Linked DNA regions of Homo sapiens. The protein of the gene in region 2 purifies or fractionates together with the protein of the main gene of each other region. This does not show direct contact. Each region holds a gene or a part of one and is shown on either strand. Other genes may lie near its edges.

Region 1 (7,110 bases), on a different chromosome or scaffold from region 2:
GGCCAAGGTCACATTGCTAGTTAAATGAGAGGCCAATGCATCCCAGTCCAGTGTGACTTCCTAAGAGCATTTAGTTTCAATAAGACATTACAAATATCGTGTCAAAGGCTTTCTGTTACATAGGATACTAAAACTGAAGATGAAAAGATATTTAATTAAAAATAATTATTTAAAAAAACCCAAAATGAAAACTGAAGATGCCTAGGAATCTTCAACTTCTTATACTGGGGCTATTATATTTCTAAGAAAAATTTTACTGCAAAGGTGGGCAGGAGCATTGCATGAAGTCCTATAATAAAGAAACTTTAAAAATCAAAAGCAATATTGCACAATGAGCCATATAAAAGAAACTGCGTTTTTCATTGCCTCTATATTTTTAACCAGCCAAGCGAAAAATGTCTCATATGCAGAGTATGAAACTAATGAGTAAATGCATACAGTGCTTCGTGGTATGTGAGCTTTTGGGGTTAGGACAAAACTATATTCAGTAAATACATTTTGAATCCATTATCATTACCATTCCATATCAAGTAAAGCAAGCCATTTGTTCCCAAACCTAAAATCCAGAAACTTTTCACAGCATAGTAACTTTTAGCTCCCGGGGGGGGCTTTTTAGAACACAGATACAAACATCAAATTTGAAATGTTTTTCAACTTAGGCCTCTGGTTTATAAAAATGTTTGAATTAAATTTCACTATATTTTTAAAGCAAAATATTCCCTTTAATATTTATTGACTGAATATATCTAACCTTACAAAAATTATAATATACTATGACTTTCAAAAGGCACTATACAAAAATCTGATGAATATCACTTACACAAATTACCTAAATGCCAGTTCTTTTAGAAGAAGGTTTTTAGAAAGTCATCCATGACGTAAATTGAAATTAGAAGAAAATTATAAAATACAGTTTACAGTCAATCTTACTTTATCTATCATCTTTAAATGTCAAAAAACACAGAAAAGATCAAGTAACTGTGCTAATCTCCTAGAGTTTCTTTATAAAATAAAATTACATGGATATTTTATAATATATCATCAAAATGTTAAATCACTGCTTTGGCAAAGTACCAATTAACACAAAATGATTTCTCTTTTAAAGAAAACAACTGAGGAAATAAACACATTCAAGGTTGAAGATAACTTCTAAGGTCCAATAAAGCATCACAAATTATAATCATTTGAAATTACACTGTACTTTGAAATAGAAACTTTCAGGATATAGCCTGTTATTACTGGCTCAACTATTTTCACATATCATCTGGGAATTACAAATCCTGAGCAATGAATCAAGTCACATAATTAAATGGTGAACTTTAAATCAATATCGTGGGAAATGTCTAAGTACTTCATTGCAGTAATCCATGCTATGTCATTAGTGCAGAATAAATTCAAATTACATGATTATTTACTGTCCACAAAGCAAGATTTCTGAACAATCAATTTTTAATTATAAGTTTAAGGCATTTGATGTGAATTTAATATATTATCTACACTTTAAAAAAATAAACAGAATGCATCTTATTTTTAAGAGACACAATCTCAATCTGTTGCCCAGGCTGGAGTGCAGAGGGGTGATTATAGCTCACTGTAATCTCCAACTCCTGGCTCAAGAGATCTTCCTCCCTTAGCCAACTGAGTAGCTGAGACTACAAGCGTGTACAACCACATCTAGCTAATTTTTAAAACCTTTTTAGTAGAGACTGGGTCTTGCCATGTTGTCCAGGCTGGGCCCAAACCCCTGGCCTCAAGCCATCTTACAGCCTTGGCCTCCCAAAGCACTGGGATTACAAGTGTGAACTACTGATTTGATTAACATCACCCTAATTTCTTTATTTACTTGCCATGGAAATCCTAGAGAAGATACTAAGGTATTTGTTTTCCTTACGAGATGCTCAGAAACTAAAAATCTAGTAACTAATATGCAGATATATTATCAAAATAGGTAATTCAAAAGCTCCCAGACAATCTGCTTAAAGAAGAAACAAAAATTTCACCATTCTTTTACCTTAACCTCATCACACTGGAAGAGATGAAGATCTGGCTTGTTCTGGGTTGGCTCTTTGCACACCAGTGCAAGAACTGAATCATAGCTGCATGAATGCATCACAGCTTGGCAGTGCTGGATTGTGTTTAAAGGAAAATTCTCCAGTTCATTCTATAAATAAAGTGAACATTTTATTTTGTCAAACTTCCATCCATTTTCAAACAATCTGAAATGATTGTAAACATTAATATTTGTGGAGTTTCTTGAAAATAAAATAGTATAAATTTTACACACTTGCCTTTGATTCTAAATCAATCAGGCTCACAGCTCTGTCATCCACTTGAAGAATCATATCTTGAGTCCACACTTTGCCCTTGGCATCAAGCAATTTCAATTTCCTTATTCCATCATCAACAGTGATCATAGCATCTTTCCGATCCAGGACAAAGGTAGTCAAGTGCTTACAATTGGCAAAAAGGAAAAAGATTTATAACACATACAAACACATACAACCTCTTAGTATACATTTTCCAAAAGAAAATCAAATAACCTGAGGTCAGCTAGCAGAGAACGACAAACACAAAGTACTCTTAAAACTTCATGACTATTTTAATGAGAGAATAAAGCCAACCAAGGTTTTTTTTGAATAGAAGAAATGGTGTTTTGACTCATAAGATACCTAAATCTGTTTCATACGGAGCCATGTTGAACTACATAAACATGACATTAAAACAAATTCTTAACAGCTTAAATAATATTCTCTTAAAATAAACTTTCCCCTATTTGACACTCTATTATGGTTATTTAAATGCTGAACATAGCAGCATTTAAACAGCAGGCTATCTGTATGGGAGCTTCAAAACTATGGACACTGATTGTAGCAACAGCACAATTCTAGTCTATAGGAACTGTCAAACTATTCAATCCACTAAAACCACTTACTGAAACAAAACTGTTTAAATTTGATTAAGCATGCTTGACATAGGTAGAAAACTGAAAATAAGAGCAATTTAAAAATTACTTCCCTGCTTAAATATTTTCTATTATAAGCACAGGTCAACCAGATAAATTCCAATCAAGAGCAAATATCGTAAAAGAGGGCAAAAACTAAAAAAGAACCATTATTTAACTAGAACTGGCAATAACTTTAGTTAAACTAAAAACTAAATTGCTCACTGAAACTAGCAAAGGCTTAATTTCAAGAAGATTCTATAGTACAAAGTAAAAGCCATTATTCTATTATAAGTGAAATAAGACTGGCAAGGATAAATGGATAGTAGTTATGATTTTAAATCATTCTTTATGAAAATAGACCACAGACTAACAAGATACTTTATATGTAATATCTGTTTTAAAAAATCTAAACAAAAAGGTCAATGCAACTTAAAATACATCATAAGAATGAAATAAAACAGAATTCTGATTTAACTTCCAATTTTTATGTTCCTCAAGGGTCACTCTAAATACTAGCAAACACCAAAGCATCTTACTTCAACACGGTATTGAGATATATCTGACACACTGCTGACACTGTCCCGTGCATAATTCTTCCTTTGTTCTGAAAGAGAAATTGAAAAAGCCATGATTTGTCCCCTAATAGACTGAAGTTCATATGTTGGTATCATGTGGCTATCTCTAAAACTAGTCTATCTCACATATAAATACAGTAGCTGACAAGTTGCCATTGTGTGGTGTATCTGAAAACACTCATTATTCGCAGTAAATCTAAAAACCACAAGAAAGTCTAAATAATAGGCAAGAACAATTTGATCCACTATCCATTTTTAGAATTCCAAAGGTTAACAAGAGTATAAATATTATAAGAAAAAAAGTTATTTCATCTAAAGGTTTTATTTATCAGTCAGGGACCTACTGTTTGACAAGTCAATTACAACTGGCTTATAAATTTCATCTGTTACTGCACTGATATCAAAATGTAATTGCAAATATTGTCATAGATACTGTATTATATGAGTTAGACTACATTATTAAAATAATAGGCATTACAAGGAACATCTCCTTTTGCAATATCCAAATTGGGATAGTGTTAGAGGAGATTTAAAACATGATTCAATCACATGGCTTGCCATTAAATATTAACAGTTTTCACACATCTACAAAACACACAAATGTGATACTTAGAATTATAAATATAAGCTGATAGGAAAAACAAGAAAGTCAGGTAGAAAGTTATTGCACCAAACTACTTAAAAAGCAAAAAGAAACCTTTAATTTTCTTTTCTGAAATGCTGCAAAACCAAAAAAATAACATTAAAATATAAAATGTATGTCGGCAATATTTGGTATTTGTTACTCTCTTTTTAAAATTTGTATTGTTTTTTAAAATATGGAACACTTCATGAATTTGAGTGCCATCTCTGCACAGGGGTCATGCTAATCTCTGTATCATTCCAATTTTAGTATATGTGCTGCCAAAGTGAGCACTATTTGTTACTTTTCTAATCAAGCAACTTGCTTATTTGTAAATTCAGAGTTGCCCTATTTCTTCTAAACAGAATGCTATGATGAAAAATAACTCTGAGAGGGAATTATAAGATTTATTGTTCCAGCTTCGGCTCTGTCACTAAGTAGGAAACTAAATTTGGGCAAGAAACTTAATACCCTGGGCCTCAGCACCCTTACTGTAAAATAAAAGGATTAAACAAGGTCAAACCTAAAGGCCTTTAAGCCATTAACATTCTGACATATAGATATACCTTAGCTTTCCCAACAACCTATTTTTTTGTAAATGTAAACCTATTTCTTTTAGTTAGTATAGATATTCTATAATAGATAAGTTGTTTGGAAAGTTCTGCTGAACATAAAAGCTGAGCAAGTACAAAAATATAAAGTGCATATATACATATGCAGACTCAGAACATTAACACAGAATTTTAAGAAAACTTAATAAATTTTCATTTTACAACACATATGAATTTCATTTATATTTACTTTTAAAATTTAGATTAAAATCTCCATGTCCTTGTATCAATATTACTCTGATATTCCAATACACTCCATTTTTGCTTTTGCAGCATTAAAATTACTTAATAAAAACAGATGCACTACAAAATTCACTCTGTGCTACCTTTCTTTTTTTGTTTGGATGATGACCTGAGGAAGTATGATCCATCTGGTCCTACCAAAATAATGTCATCAAAAAGAAAGATCTGGTTTCACCTAAAATTTTCTCTCCCAATATAACAAAACATAAACCTTCACTTACATGACTGTATTCTACATATTTTTAAAAAGTGAGCGACTGTGATTTTTCTGATTAGTTGTTGAGGATTAATCAGTGTGAGATATTAACACATCGATAATTGTCCCTGTGACAGCCGTTATGACTCTTGTAATACAATATATAATTCAGGAATATATTTCACAAAACCACATCTAGAAATAATCACTATTTCAGAGTCACTGGTTCACCATATTCTAACACAACTGTCCACGATAGATTCAGAGCAGGAGGGCTCGGCTTGCTTTGATCTGACCTTAGGACAGAAAAGAAATGGCAGTGGTTGCCATGACACCCAGTCATGATATGGCAGCTCCTGGATGTTCAAATGCTTTGTCTTTCAGGTAATTTATTGGCAAATACAACAGTTGAAGATCTGAAATACTGTGTGTTTCTATTTAGATATTCTCATTATGAAGTATTAAGAATTTATCCCTGACCTCTTGATTTCCTAACCCATAGTTTCCCAATCCCACAGAAACATAATTTACAGAAATGAGAAGAAAAACTATCTGATAGCATTTTAAACAGTATGACATTAACCGATCACTCTGAGTGCCTAGAAGATATGGTGTCATTTCTAATATTCCAAATTAAGAATCCACTTTAGGAATTCCTAAGCTGCTTTCTCTATGTTGTACAATAAATAAGTTGTATAAGAAACTACCTTTTAAAGATCCTAAAAATGTATAAATGCCATAAATGGACTTATAAATAAACTAGTAGTTCCAGTGATTTTTAAGTCAATCCATAAAGGTTAATATTAACATTTTAATAGGCAATTTTGAAAGACATTTCCTAAAAGGCAATTATAATACATTTCTTTTTTATGAGAATCACATGTATTCACAAGAACTGGTATAAATAGTAATTAGGCTCCTAAGCTAGAAATCTCACCAAAGCCTTAAAACAGTATAAAAAGCCTAACTAAAATCTCTCAACACTACTCAAGATGAATCCTCTAATGAAATTCACCACTTTTGCTAACAGTGGTTCTCATCCTTGGCTGCATGTTGGAATGAACTTTATAAAACAGTGTGCAACTCATCTACTATATACTATCTCTTCAAGCAGAACATTTTCCTTTCCAAATTAAGAATGTAAATATCGTCAAATGGTATATTAAATAATAAATTCATGAATAAACATGGCAGTAGGGTTTTAGGTTTCTAGTAGTACAAGCTGCTCAACTCCTAACATAAGACTAAGTCTATTTCCCCTCCTATTCTGGCCCCTGCCTCTCTTTCTCGCTCAGAATCAATTAGAGGTAGGATGAAACTTACTTGGCTATAGAACCACTGGTTGTGTTTCACTATTTTGTCTATTAGCTTTTATGTCATGGTCCAGAATGTACAACTCCAAACAGACAGAATTACATGAATTCAGTAACCAACGATGAAAAATATTTACATACAATTTTATCATACACTATTGCAAAAATTGATATTCAACTCCCAGATCAGAAATACTAAATTTAGGTTTCATTTAATTTGTTAATTAGTTGAACTACAAGTATAAAAAGCATCCAGGTGTTGGTATTTACACTTAATTCCCTTTCACATGCATTGCTGTTTATGCATAATATAACATTTGAAACGGCTAATATTCAAAGATACAGCTAATATTTAGAATTTTTTTTCTCTTTCTCTAAAAACAAAAATGTTCCTTAGAGAGTAAGGATTTGGCCATTAACAAGAAAAAAGTAACATAAAAGCAGCTGCTGAGTATTCCTCTCTCTAAATAAAACAATGGGCTAGAACTCATATTACTTTATACTTACAAAAACTTTCAACCACAGTAAGGGAGAATTCCTTTCCCACTAGCTTAGTGTCTAAGTATATCTATTCCATAGGGGAGAGGTGCTTAATGGGAATCAGTG
Region 2 (7,110 bases):
GAGAATCACTTGAACCCCGGAGGGGGAGGTTGCAGGGAGCTGAGATCCCGCCATTGCACTCCGGCCTGGATGACAAGAGTGAAATTCTGTCTCAAAAAAAATAATAAAGTACAGGTAAAAGGAACATTCCCCTCCATGAAACCTTCCCCCAGGCAGAAGCCAATCACACCCTCCCCCTAACTCCCACTGCTCCTAATCACAGCACTGCTCACACTTGCCTCACAGAGCTTGGCTGTGAGCTCAAGGTTCTTCCTTGCTCTCTCTTCTCCCCAAGTGTATCACTGTCTCTTAGTACAGCTTCTCTGGATGGTCACTTTGCAATCTATTAACATTTAAAACATTCCTACCCTTTGTTTTATCTATTTATTTTTTGAGACGGGGTCTCGCTCTGTCACGCCCAGGCTTGAGTGCAGTGGCGCGATCTCGGCTCAGTGCAACCTCTGCCTCCTGGGTTCAAGTGATTCTCCTGCCTCAGCCTCCCAAGTAGCTGGCATTACAGGCGCCTGCCACCACGCCCGGCTAATTTTCTGTATTTTTAGCAGAGATGGGGTTTCACCATGTTGGTCAGGCTGGTCTCGAACTCCTGATCCCAGGTAATCCGCCTGCCTCGGCCTCCCAAAGTGCTGGGATTACAGGCATGACATTCCTACCCTTTAACTAAGCAGCTCTGCTTACAGAAACTGAGCTTATATACATAAGTATGCAAAAGTATAGGTACAATGATATTCATTGCAGTGCTGTTTCTAGTAAAGAAAAAAAGAAACCAACTGTCCATCAGCACATGATTGGTTAATTACGGAACAGTGATAAAATAAGGTCGATTTTTATGGGAAAACATTGAAAAGCTATAATAGAATAATACAAAACAAGAAAACACTTATGGTAAGTAAACTTTTGCTTAAATTTGGAGCAACATATACCAAGCTGTTCACAATGGTTTTTTGTGGGGAATGAAATTATAACAGATTTTCATCCACAATTTATATGTTTGCAATGTCTGTCATTTTCACAACATATGCACACTTTTGGAAACAGGAAACAAAAACCTGTAGCATTATATCAATCAGCACATAACCTATACATTTCCTAGCACATGGTGTGGGTTTAATGATGTTTCAATTGAATTTAGTCAGCACATTTATAAGCTTAGTTAAGTTGGTTAATTTCAACTCAGAATGGCCAGTATACATGGCCTTTTACCTCCCATTCTGGACACATTTTATTCAGTCAGTCTTTCAACAAATAATTATTGCATATGTTCTATGTGCCAGATACTGTGCTAATCCCTGGATATTCTACTGCAAATGAGGCAGTTACAATTCTTGCCCTCTATAGAGCTGACAGTCCATGGGGGTGATAAAGGCAAGAAACAGGCAATTACAATCTAATGTGGCAAATGCCATGAAAGGGGAGCTAGATTTCACAACTGGAGCAACCTGAAGTAGGCTTTTTACAAGTTTAGAAGTTTAGGGCTAAGACCTAAAGCATGCCAGGTGTTGTGAAGAGGTAGGCAAAGTGGAGGAAAAGCATGGGGTTAGAGGGGTACAGAGCATATGCAAAGGCTGAAAAGCAAGAGAAAGTGGTTTTGGAAAATTATGGCCGGGGGCTGTGGTTCCACGCCTGTATTCCCAGCACTTTGGGAGGCCGAGGCAGGTGGATCATTTGAGATCAGGAGTTCAAGACCAGCTTGGCCAACATGGTGAGACCCTGTCTCTACTAAAAATACAAAAATTAGCCACGCTTGGTACCTGTAATCCCAGCTACTCAGGAGATTGAGGCAGGAGAATCACTTGAACCCAGGAGGCAGAGGTTGCAGTGTGCCGAGATCGCACCACTGCACTCCAGCCTGGGTGACAGAGTAAGACTGTCTCAAAAAAAAGAAAAAAGAAAGAAAAAAAAAAACAGTTCCCTGTCTTCAAGAACAGAGAGACTCCTACTCTTTCTCACCAGAGATGGGAGGGAAAATGAGGACACATGGGGATGCAGACGGCAGAAATGGGCTACATTCTGTGCTGAAACTGGCTCATGGAAGAAAGCAGCAAGTCTATTCCTTAGAAAGAAATCAATTTCTATAAACTACCTTTCCATATGTTTCACTTTGTTTCCATTTTCCTTAAAGAAAAATGTTCCCTTTGAAAAATTCTAGAATTGGCCAGTCACAGTGGCTCATGCCTGTAATCCTAGCACTTTGGGAGGCCAAGGCGGGTGGATGGCTTGCGGTCAGGAATTCAAAACCAGCCTGGCCAACGTGGTGAAACCCCATCTCTGCTAAAAATATTTAAAAAATTGGTGGCGGGCACCTGTAATCCCAGCTACTTGGTAGGCTGAGGTAGGAGAATCGCTTGAACCGGGGAGGCAGGGCTTGCAGTGAGCCGAGATGGCACCATTGCACTCCAGCCTGGGCAACAAGAGCAAAACTCTGTCTCAAAAAAAAAAAGAAAAAGAAAAATTCTAGAATTAACTCAAATGAACTACATGAAACAGTGGTTTGTCCTAACACAGTCAAGGTCAGCCAAATGGATGAGGGCCAAGCAGAGAAGCCTCACGTGAGGGAGGATCGAGATGGGAAAGCTTCTGTGACGAGAAGGGGGTCAAGCTTTGGTCTGTTCTTACCGAGCCTCTCTAAGTCCCTGCCCCAGGGAGGAGCCCCAGAGCACAATTAGGAAAAACTCTGCCTCTTCCCTAAACCTTGAACTCAATTGCTTAACTCAAAATCAAACAAGTAGGATCCCCAGCTGACTCTACTATTACCCAGGAAAGCAACCTGTTCCCACGTAGCACCCCCATTCTATTTGTTGGGAGGTCTAAAAAGCACCAGAAGTATGAGAAAGGATGTTAGGTGCAGAGGCTGGCATGGTGGGTAAGAGTTGACTGCCAAATGAGATCCTGAATGTGAAAATAGCAACAAAAAAAGTACAGCCCAATATTTAAGAAAGATCATAATGTCAGCTGGCACTCCCTAGGGCAAAGATAGATTTAAAAACCAGTTCATTCCAGGTGTGGTGGCTCATGCCTGTACTTTGGGAGGCAGAGGTGGGCAGATCACTTGAGGTCAGGAGTTCAAGACCAACCTGGCCAACATGGTGAAACCCTGTTCTCTACTAAAAAATACAAAAAAAAAACATTAGCCGGGCATGGTGGCTCATGCCTGTAGTCCCGGCTACTCAGGAAGATGAGGCAGGAGAATCACTTGAGTCTAGGAGGCAGAGGTTGCAGTGAGCCAAGATCATGCCAGTGCACTCCAGCCTAGGCAAGAGCAAGACTCAGTCTCAGAATAAAAACCAGTTCAGGAAAAGACAAGACCCTGAATTCACATAAATTCTTTTTTTTTCAAATGTTTGTATTTACCCTAGATAAATAGACACATACAATAGACGTTTCTAGTCAAAAGACAACATGTTAAGTTGCACTAGCATTCAAAACAGGATATGCAAAGAGTGAACCCTCATGTAAATTGTGTACTTTAGTTTATAATAACACATGAACATTGGCTCATCAGTTGTAACAAAATATGACATACTAATGCAAAATGTTAATAACAGGGGAAATGGCCTATTACAGGCATGGTGGCTCATGCCTGTAATCCCAGCACTTTGGGAGGTTGAGGTGGGTAAATTGCGTGAGCCCAGGAGTCTGAGACCAGCCTAGGCAACAGAGCAAAACCTCATCTCTACAAAAAATACAAAAATTAGCCAGGTGTGGAGGAACATGCCTGTAGTCCTAGTTACCAAGGAGGCTGAGGTGGGAGGATTGCTTGAGCCCAGGAGGTCAAAGCTGCAGTGAGCCGTGAGCTGTGAGCATGCCACTGTACACTAGCCTGGGCGACTCTGTCTTAAAAAAAAAAAAGAAGAAAAGGAAACTTGGGAAGAGGAATGAGGGAGTAATGGGAATTCTGTACTTTCTACTCGTTTTTCTGTAAATTTAAAACTGCTGTAAAAAATAAAAGTCTATTAATTTCTTTTTTCCTTTGAGACAGAGTTTTGCTCTTGTTGCCCAGGCTGGGGTGCAATGGCTCAATCTCCGCTCACTGCAAGGTCGGCCTCCCAGGTTCAAGTGATTCTCCTGCCTCAGCCTCCCAAGTAGCTGGGGTTACAGGCGCGCACCACCATGCCTGGCTAATTTTGTATTTTTAGTAGAAACGGGGTTTCTCCATGTTGGTCAGGCTGGTCTCGAACTCCCAACCTCAGGTGATCCGCCCACTTGGCCTCCCAAAGTGCTGGGATTACAGGCGTGAGCCATCGTGCCTGGTCTATTTTTTTGTTTTTGTTTTTTTTAAGTATATATGTATAGGAAGGCCAGGTGAAGTGGCTAACGCCTGTAATCCAAACACTTTGGGAGGCCAAGGTGGGTGGATCACGAGTTCAGGAGTTCGAGACCAACCTGGCCAGTATGGTGAAACCCTGTCTCTACTAACAATACAAAAATTAGCCAGGCCTGCCACTCCGTCTGGGAAGTGAGGAGCGCCCTGCCCAGCCACCGCCCCATCTGGGATGTGAGGAGCGCCACTGCCCGGCCGCCCCACCATCTGGGAAGTGAGGAGTGCCTCTGCCCAGCCACCCAACTGACTGGGAAGTGAGGAGCGCCTCTGCTCGGCTGCCCACCATCTGGGAAGTGAGGAGGACCTCTGCCCAGCTGCCGCCCCATCTGGGAAGTAAGAAGCGCCTCTGCCCAGCTGCCCACTGTCTGGGAAGTGAGGAGCACCTCTGCCCAGCTGCCCAATGTCTGGGAAGCGAGGAGTGCCTCTGCCCAGCTGCTGCCCCATCTGGAAAGTGAGGAGCGCCTCTGCCCAGCTGCCCACTGTCTGGGAAGTGAGGAGTGCCTCTGCCCAGCTGCCGCCCCGTCTGGAAAGTGAAGAGCGCCTCTGCCCAGCTGCCACTGTCTGGGAAGTGAGGAGCACCTCTGCCCAGCTGCCACCCCGTCTGGAAAGTGAAGAGCGCCTCTGCCCGGCCGCCACCCTGTCTGGGAAGTGAAGAGCGCCTCTGCCCGGCCACCGCCCTGTCTGGGAAGTGAGGAGCGCCTCTGCCCGGCCGCTGCCCTGTCTGGGAAGTGAGGAGCCCCTCTGCCTGGCCGCTGTGCAACCTTCCAAGTGTGAAGTGACAGCCTTGTGTGTGATCTTTTCTGTCTTCTCCAAGTTTGCATTTTTGATGTTAAAGTTTACTTTTTAATTAAAAGTTTTAAATTGGAGAATATATTTTTTAAAAAAATTAGCCAGGCCTGGTGGCGCACACCTGTAGTTTCAGCTACTTGGGAGACTGAGGCAGGAGAATCACTTGAACCCGAAAGGCAGAGGTTGCAGTGAGCTGAGATCACACCACTGCAGAGTGACAGAGTGAGACTCCGTCTCAAAAGAAAAAAGTATGTATGTATAGGAAAACAACAATTTAAAAAAAATTATGCAGCTGGGCCTGGTGGTTCACGCCTGTAATCCCAGCACTTTGGGAGGCCAAAGAGGGCAGATCGTTTGAACTTAGGAGTTCGAGACCGCCCTGGGCAATATGGTGAAACCCCACCTCTACAAAAAATACAAAAAAATTAGCCAGGCATGGTGGTGTGTACGTGTAATCCCAGCCACTTGGGAGGCTGAGATGGGAGGATCCCAGGCCCAGAAGGCAGAGGTTACAGTGAGCCAAGATTGGGCCACTGCACTCCAGCCTGGGTGACAGAGCCAGACCCTGTCTTAAAAAAAAAAAAAAAAAGCAATAACTTTAGGATGGTATGGAATGCAAGCATCACAGGTCACAAAATTTTATACACACCATGTATATATGGATGTACAATAATCACAACTATGAAATAAATACATGAAAGACTGGAAGGAAATGCACCAAAACCTAAACCTAATGAACATTTTGCATTGCAGAGGTTGGGGTAAGGGGACTAAATTTGTTTATCTTATTTACAGCATCAATCTTTTCTAAAAAAAAAGAATATTTATTACTTTTATGATCAGAAATAAATACAAGTAAGTTTTTAAAACAATGAAGGACACTGTTTTGGACAGTATTCTCTATCCAGGTAGGGTGAACTTTACCTAGCACACTGTTTACTTGTGGAAGTGGTATTTTTCTGCCCAAGGATACTTTTGATTGTGTATAATGGAACCCTAGGCCATACTTCTATCCATAATTAAAGTAGAGGAAAGATGTGCTTCATGCTTTACACAAAGACGTATCTTGGCTGATAAAAAAAAAAAGCTTCATCCAACCCAGGGCTCTGTTGGACAGGCTGCTACTCTGCAATCCACCCCAACCCCACCCAACCCCCCTTGCAATCACTCACTCAGAGAAAATACTGCAGCTCAGTAGTCCCTCAGCAGTCCCACACCCAACAGCACAGGGTTTAACTCAAATGTATTGAGGCTTTTCCTGTGCCAGGCTCTCCAGTAAGCACTTTAAATGATTAACTCATTTAACCCTCCCAGGAGACAGGCACCCCCAGTCTTTTCTTTTTACAAGACAAAGCACACTGAGGATGGGGGTAGTGGAAAGGTTGGGAAATCAGGCTATCCTAGTTCGCCTTTACTCTCCCCTTCTCAGGAGCCTAGCTCCCACCTAGTGACAAGTCAGTGTGGCCAGCCCAGCACCAGTCACAGTTCCCACATTTGCTCATTTAACCAATGGTGGAGACTCAGAGACCAAGGAGGCTGACTCTGCCTCACAGCCTGATTAGACAGTCAAGGAACATGAGCCTCTGGCCCTGAGAAAGGGATGCTGCCACTGCTCTTTTTTTTTTTTTTTTTTTTGAGATGGAGTCTCACTCTGTCGCCCAGGCTGGATGGAGTGCAGTGATGCTATCTTGGCTCACTGCAGCCTCCGCCTCCCAAGCTCAAGCAATTCTCCTGCCTCAGCCTCCTGAGTAGGCTGGATTACACGCGCCACCACATTCGGCTAATTTTTGTATTTTTACTAGAGACAGGGTTTCACCATGTTGGCCAGGCTGGTCTCGAACTCCTGACCTCAGATGATCCACCCGCCTCAGCCTCCTGAAGTGGTGGGATCACAAGCATGAGCCACCAGGTGCGATCTGCTGTTGTTCTTTAAACCAGGAATGCTGACCTATTGCTGAGATACTCCCAGACAAATCTGGCAGGGGGATAGAGGAGGAGCAAAC
Region 3 (7,239 bases), on a different chromosome or scaffold from region 2:
TATCCTACAATACACAGGGGAGTCCCACAACAAAGAATCCTCTGACCCAACTGTCAACAGTGCCCAAAATGAGAACCCCTCATCTAGACCTGTCTCTTTTCTGATGTCCAACCCCAACAAACCTCATTCAAAGACGAGGAACTGAGGTTCAGAGACATGAATGACTTGCCTAAGTTTCCATAGACAGCCACTACCAGTGGCCAACTCTCTACTCCATCTGGCTTCAGGGTCTGTGGTCCATTCCACATACTACACTGTCTCTCTAGGAAGACATCCCCTTGTCCCCAGGCACCTTGGCCCTGGCAGATTATCTACGGCAAGGGTTACAAGTTTTGCCTTAAGGCATAAGCACCTCCCCACTTCATGATTAGAGGTTTTATGACTTTGCACTTGTAATCATTGTTTCTGCTCATTTTGCTGTGTGCTAAACATTTTATGAGGATTAACTCATTTTACCCCAAGGATATGTCACAGAGAGGTTAAGATCAGACACTAAGTGGCAGATTTGTGCTCTCGACCCAGATAAGAGGTCTCCAGGGACCAACCTCTCGGCCTCTCTACCGTGGTCCTCCTCATGCTTTGAACTTCGCCTTGGCAAAGTTGGGGCACAACAACCAATCCTTTAGCTGGGAACTGGGTGGGGGCAGAAACAGAGAGAGCCTCTACTTCAGACCATGCTGCCCAGCTGGGTGGTCCTAGAGAATCTGCCAGAATTTCAGCTCTTTTCCCATGCAATGCCCCAGGAGAAAAGACGCAGGCCTCTGAACAGAGATGAGACAATGTGCAGGGAACTCAAAGCCAGAGGGCGTGGGCAGGGGCTAAGAGGGAGGGGACCTTGGAGGGAAGGAATATGACATCCTCAGGACCTGTCCAAAGTTCTTGGAGCAAACCCAGCTATGCAAGTGAGGTTCCTGCAGTAGCCTCCACTCCAGCATCTCATTCTCATTAGCTGCAACTGATCTTATTAGCTATCCTGGGTCAGTTTGGATTTTGGCAAGCCTAGATTTGGCAATGGCCTCAACACAAAGATCGCACGGGGTAAGCAGGGATGCGCTGACACCCAGGAATGGATTCCACGAGGCAGCCTGCTGGGGGATGGCATTGAGTTCCAGCTCTGCCCCTTCCTGGCTTCATGACCTTTGCAGAGCCTTGGCGCTTCCTCTGACAAGTGGGGACTTGGGACCCAGCAGTCCCCAAGTCCCCATTGTAAATGTGAGGACTGGGGCTTGTGTCAGGGATCCTAGCACCTTAAGGGTCCTGGAGGGGTTGGGGCCAGCTGTCTCCCACAGGCTGGGTGACCTTGAGCAAGTCTCTTCCCCTTTTGTGCCTCTGTGTGTTTAACTGTCAAATGAAGGGGCCACGTCTTTAATGCAGAAGCCCTTTTAGGTCTTAGGACTCCAGACTGGACCATTTACCTCTCCCCGTGGCTAACCTCTTTGGGCCTCGAGAAAACACATTTCTCTATGACTCCACGCCGCAACACAGGCTCCAAAGAGCAAGACACAACTCACTGCCTCCCTCTCTCCTGCCTCCCAACCTGACCCACCAGAGAAGAGCTCTTCCCACCCCCTCCCCACCCCCAGGTCACCAACATCCTGTCCCTTAGTCTAGCTTCATCAAAGCAGCAAAGCCAACACTGTCTCCTCCCCAGTGGATGGGCCCAGCAGCACCCATTTCTCTTGGCTGAGTGCCCAGGGAATTCCACCAGGCAATGTCCACAGGCGCTTGCGGGGGTGCACACTTTAGGGGGGAAATGCGGGCCCTCTTGGAAGAGGGCCAGCTGTCCTCCCAGACTGCAAGAGAGAATGCATTGAACACAGCCTTTGTGCGTGTGTTGGGGCAGGGAGCGGGGGAGAGGTGGCGGGTGGTCTCTGCTGGTCCTGCTGCCTCAGAGGCCATCTCTGTTGTCAGAGTTTGAAGACTCCTGGAAGGGCCTCTAGGCCCCAGATCCCAGTTTTAAGAGCTCCAGTCTTACTAAATCTCGCTGAACCCCCTCTAGTCTTACCTTGGCCAGGGTGGGTGAGGAAAGGTGAGAGGATGTGAAATAGGTGGGGCAGCCAGGTGTGGGAGTGGAGTTGGGGTGAGGTGGAGAAGGATGGGATTGGGAGCGGTGGGAGGATGGTGCAGGGGGTTACTAGGATGGGGTTTGTGTGAAAGGGCTTGGGTGGAGTGGAGGGAGGTGGATGACTTGGAGGGGTGGCCAGACCTTTGCCCTGCTCCTGAGTATGAAGGTCCCTCATTTTACATCTTTACTGGGGAGGAGAGGGGAAATCCCCAAAAGCCTTTAATGTGGTGGTGTCAGAGGCCACCCTGCCTCTCTGACGGGTAGGGAGGGGTCTCCGGCAGGGCTAAGGGTGAATCATCTATCTCTCCAGAGCCCAGTATCTGGGGTGGGAGGGTGACTTGCAGAGTCTCTGCTCCGGGATTTCCTTGTCTTATGATGGGGGGAGAGCTTCCATTTGTCATGGAGGGGGAGGTCACTGTAATTTATAAGCTGAGAAGACCCCCATTATTCCGAAAGAGAGGGGAGAAGGAAGACACCCAAACTTAGTTTTCTAAGGATGGGGAAGGGGCATCAGTCTCCCAAGAGGTGAGGGGGCTCTAGAGACCTGGAGACCACTTTTTGGGGCCGCATTCTATTTCAAGCGGTAAAAGGGAGAGGACTTCTGTCTAGAGCTGGAGCCAGGAGGAAGGGCCCATTTCTGAAGGAGAAAGGAAGGTATTTTGCTCTCTGGGGGGTGGGAGCCCCTGTCTTTTCGGGGGAGGGCCCCGCGTCTTGGGAAGATGAGGGCTCCGTTTCCAGGAGAAGATGCCCAGGTTTTGCTCCTGGGGGCAGGGCAGAAGGACCTCCTCTCGGCTCCCCTCGGAAGGGCCCGTCCCAAGCCACCCGGCGCCTCGCGCTCACCTCCAGGCCCCGTCTCCGATCTGCGGGATCCGATCCGCCGGGTTCCGACTTGCGGGATGCGCGCCCCGAGTTCCGGCAGCGCTGGGTGTCTGCTCGACTTCCCCCAGCGACTCGCCGGACTCCCTGGCTCCGCCGAGCGTCCCGGCCAATCAGCGCCGCCAGCCCCGGCCCTCGCTTTCGCCACAGCCAATGGGTGCGCCCGCCACGGGCCACCGCCCCCAGGAGGGAGGTGGCAGGCGGGGCGGGGGCAGAGTCCAGCCTCCGGGGGCGGGGGAGACGGGGGCTGGGGCGGGACCCACCAGAGGGACCGCGAGGGCTGGGAGGGAGTCCTGGGACTGGGGAGGAGACGGCTGAGGACCCCCGTCAAGTTGTGGGGACCCTGACCCTCTGGGGGGCAGCTCCATAGGTTGATTTAACCTGGATCTTAATGGGCCATTTACACCCTCAGGGCTGCAGGCGAGTGTAACTCCACCTCCACCCGCGTCTCGGATCCGGTCTCTGGAGCTCCAGAGTCGGAATCAGAAGGGGTTCCTTTGCGGAGAAGGGAAGGAGCATCCCGCCCTCCCCACCTCACTCCCCATCTCGGCGCTCAGGGCCCTGCCAGCCCTTCTTGCTCCCAGCTACTTTCCTCCGCCTGGCCCCAGCGCTCCGGAAGACAAACAGGGCGCTGGGAGTCAGAGGTGGTTCCTTCTGCATGACCTGGAGCAGGTCACTGCGCCTCCTGATCCTCAATTTCCTGAAATTGGGACAACAGAGATTGTACCTCCTTCGTGGGTATAAACGAGACCCTAGATATGATGAAGGTGCCTTTCTACCGTTGTATAAAATGCTGTGTGGAAGATAATTAATACTCAGGTGTGACGGATGGATAGCCCCCCCACAGCTTTCTAGAGGTATTTGGAAAGAGGATGCAATCTTTCAGTGACAAAATCAAAGACACAAAGAACTGCTCATCAAGACAACAGGCGATCACCAAGTCCTCATAATGAATGAATGGATGGATGGAGAGTACAGACCTTAAAGGCAGAGAAAGAGTTCAGCTTGGTTCTCCCCACTCACCCTGATCACTGATAACTTGGTCTGTGGAGTCTTGTAGAACCCTGAGGTCTCTCCTCCTGCTGTCCAGGAATCCAGGCTGCCCTATCTCTGATTACACAAGCGCTATAGTCCTTGCAATTAAAGAATTAAGATAAAGTAAACACATAGATAAATAGAAAGCTGCCAAACAAATCATTCACCTCCTAGTGTCACCTCTGGGGACCCTCCCCCCCAACACACACACACACACACACACACACACACACACACACACACAGAGCAGTAAATAAGAATAATTGAGGCCTGGCACAGTGGCTTACGCCTGTAATTCCAGCACTTTGGGAGGCCGAGGCAGGCAGATCACTTGATGCCCAGAGCTCGAGACCAGCCTGGCCATCATGGGGAAACCCCCTTTCTATTAAAAATACAAAAATTAGCCTGGCATGGTGGCACCTGCCTGTAATCCCAGCTACCTGGGAGGCTGAGACATGAGAATCGCTTGAATGGAGAGGCAGTGGTTGCACTGAGGTGAGATGGCACCACTGCACTCTAGCCTGGGTGATTGTCACCTTGCTTGAGGAACTTGATGAGGCCTGTGCTGAAAATCTAGCAATTTTTTCTTAAAACCAAAGCCATGAACATAATCCCCTTTACTACCCTTGACCTGCCCAAAGAAATACAACGGCCAATAAACATGGGAGATGACACTTTGAAAAGGAAAGGCAAGTTAAAACCAAAAGAGGGAAAGAGTTTACCTACCAAAATGACCTTGTTTTTATTATTATAATTACTATTCTTTGCAAAGACTTCAAGGAGTTTCATGTATTGATGATGGCAGTAGAAAGATCACAGCCTTTCTGGAGGGAAATTGGGTATTTCTATTTTAAAAATCTTAAAAGTAAGTTGACCCTTTGATCTAGCAATCCAATCCCTATGAACTTATCTGAAAACATTTAAAGGTACAAAGATTTAATGATAAAGTAGCTTACTACCATTTTGTTTATCACAGGGAAAAACTGGGAACAACTTGAATGCACAACAGCAGGGACTCAGAGGGAAATTGTTGCATGAAATTGAACAATAAACATAGGTATGAAATATTGAATGGGGCTGGGTGTGGTGACACGCCTGTAATTCCAGCACTTTGGGAAGCCAAGGCAAGAGGATCGCTTGAGCCAAGGAGTTCAAGACCAGCCTGGGTAACATAGTGAAACCCTGTCTCTACAAAAAATACAAAAATTATCCGGGCGATGTGGCGCATGCATGTAGTCCCAGCTACTCAGGAGACTGAGGCAGCCTTGAGCCTGGGAGGTTGAGGCTGCTGTGGGCCAAGATTACACCACTGTACTCCAGCTGGGTGACAGAGTGAGACCCTGTCTCAAAAACAAAACAAAACAAATCTCAAAATGTTAAGTTATTTGCAAAAACAGTATATTTGGTACTGTCTTACTTTTTGTTAAACATCTTACTTTTTGTTAAATCTACCAGGTAGAGCTAGATCAATGCTGTGTAATATAACTTTCTATGATGCTCTATATCTGTGCCGTCCCGTGTGGTAGCCACTAGCCACATGGAGGTATTGAACACCTGAAATGACTAATTTTGGTATCCAAGATGTTTAAAAAAAAAAAAGAAAGAAAGAAATAATAAAAAAAGGAAAAGGGAAAAATAAATTTAAAATTTTGGAAAAAGCAATGACTAGTTAACCGAATAACTGTATTTTAATTGTATCTATTTATTTATTTTTTTAGAGACGGAGTCTCGCTCTGTCACCCAGGCTGGAGTGCAGTGGTGTGATCTCAGCTCGCTGCAACCTCTGCCTCCCAGGTTCAAGCGGTTCTCCTGCCTAAGCCTCCTGAGTAGTTGGGATTACAAGCGTGCTCCACCACGCCTGGCTCGTTGTTTAATTTTTTAATTTTTAGTAGAGACAGGGTTTCGTCATGTTGGCCAGGCTGGTCTCAAACTCCTGGCCTCCAGTGATCTGCCTGCCTCAGCCTCCCAAAGTGCTGGGATTACAGGTGTGAACCACCACGCCCAGCCTGTATCTAATTTTAATTTAAGGTGTAACAGTAACAGGTAGCTAGTGGCTATCATATTAAAAGGCACCGATATAGCTAGCTAGCAATGCTGAGTGAAAAACTGTGTTCAGTAGGAGAATGGTTATTTTTGTGTATTGAAATTATAGATTATTCTAATATTACTTTATTTGCATGTCCATGTCAGTAATTTCTTTTTATCCCCTTGGGTTTATTTTTAATAGAGGATAAACTTTACAATGTCACTAATTTCTAATTATTCTGTAATGAATATATATTACTCTGGTACTAAGAAGAAAATATTTAAAATGAAAAACAGAAAGGAAAAGTCTAAACCAAAGGGCCCGGAGTGGTGGCTCACACCTGTAATCCCAGTATTCTGGGAGGCTGAGGCGGGCAGATCACTTGAGGCCAGGGGTTCGAGACCAGCCTGGCCAACATGGCGAAACCCCATCTCTATTTATAAATAATTTTTTTTTAAAAAAGAGTCTAAGCCAAAGGTTGACAAACTATAGCTCATAGACCAAATGTAGTTCATCATGTTTTCCTATGACCATGAGCTAAGATTGGTTTTACATATTAAATGGTTAAAAAAATTCACAAGAAGAATAATGTTATGTGACACATAGAAACTACATAAAATTCAAATTTTACTGTGCATAAATAAAATTTTATGGGAACACAGCCAGGCCTATTTATTTATGCATTGTCTATGGCTGTCTGTGAGCTACAACAGCAGAGCTGAGTAGCTGTGACAGAGACTCTGTGACCTGAAAAGACAACAATATTTACCTTCCAGCCCTTTGCGAAAAATCTGCCGTGTCCTGGTCTAAGGCAATCAAGGGAAATAAGAAGTGTGTGTAGCCATCTTCATTCATCTGTTCATTCATTCATTCAACTAGGTTTTGAGCACCCATTTGTGGGTCAGGCCCTAGGAAAGGGCACTTCTAGAGGATAAAAGGAGCTGCTTTGTCTCTACTTAAGGACTAGGGAGAGAAGGCTATTTAGAGCCAGGTGCTTTGCAAGCTGATTCTCAAATAGCTTCATTGTGATACTTGTGAAGAAAACTGTCAGCATGTGGAAAAAGCCCTTTCCATATTGGCTTCCCTTGCATTTTCTGCCATTCTGCAGTTTTCCTATGGAGCTGCTTGGGGTTGCAGCTGTCTGCCAGGGAATGCAGAGTGTTTCCCAGAGTTTGGCTGAGGCCTGGGATGAAGACTCACCCATACTCTGTGCCTATCAATAAGCTCCTTCCAGAAG

The links.
Region 1: the proteins of ALDH7A1 (region 2) and EPS8 purify together in Homo sapiens (affinity purification with western blotting; 2 studies listed by BioGRID and IntAct, with this or other methods). This does not show direct contact.
Region 3: the proteins of ALDH7A1 (region 2) and ABAT fractionate together in Homo sapiens (co-fractionation; 2 studies listed by BioGRID). This does not show direct contact.

The regions. Positions count from the first base shown.
Region 1 is NC_000012.12:15,667,376-15,674,485, forward strand, and holds part of EPS8 (epidermal growth factor receptor kinase substrate 8), read right to left. Parts: intron 3,549-7,110; coding exon 3,481-3,548; intron 2,451-3,480; coding exon 2,289-2,450; exon of another isoform or gene 2,285-2,288; intron 2,162-2,284; coding exon 2,012-2,161; intron 1-2,011. UniProt on the Homo sapiens protein: Signaling adapter that controls various cellular protrusions by regulating actin cytoskeleton dynamics and architecture. Depending on its association with other signal transducers, can regulate different processes.
Region 2 is NC_000005.10:126,585,206-126,592,315, forward strand, and holds part of ALDH7A1 (alpha-aminoadipic semialdehyde dehydrogenase isoform 1 precursor), read right to left. Parts: intron 1-7,110.
Region 3 is NC_000016.10:8,670,378-8,677,616, reverse strand, and holds the start of ABAT (4-aminobutyrate aminotransferase, mitochondrial isoform 1 precursor), read right to left. Parts: upstream 3,001-7,239; 5' UTR 2,906-3,000; intron 1-2,905. UniProt on the Homo sapiens protein: Catalyzes the conversion of gamma-aminobutyrate and L-beta-aminoisobutyrate to succinate semialdehyde and methylmalonate semialdehyde, respectively. Can also convert delta-aminovalerate and beta-alanine.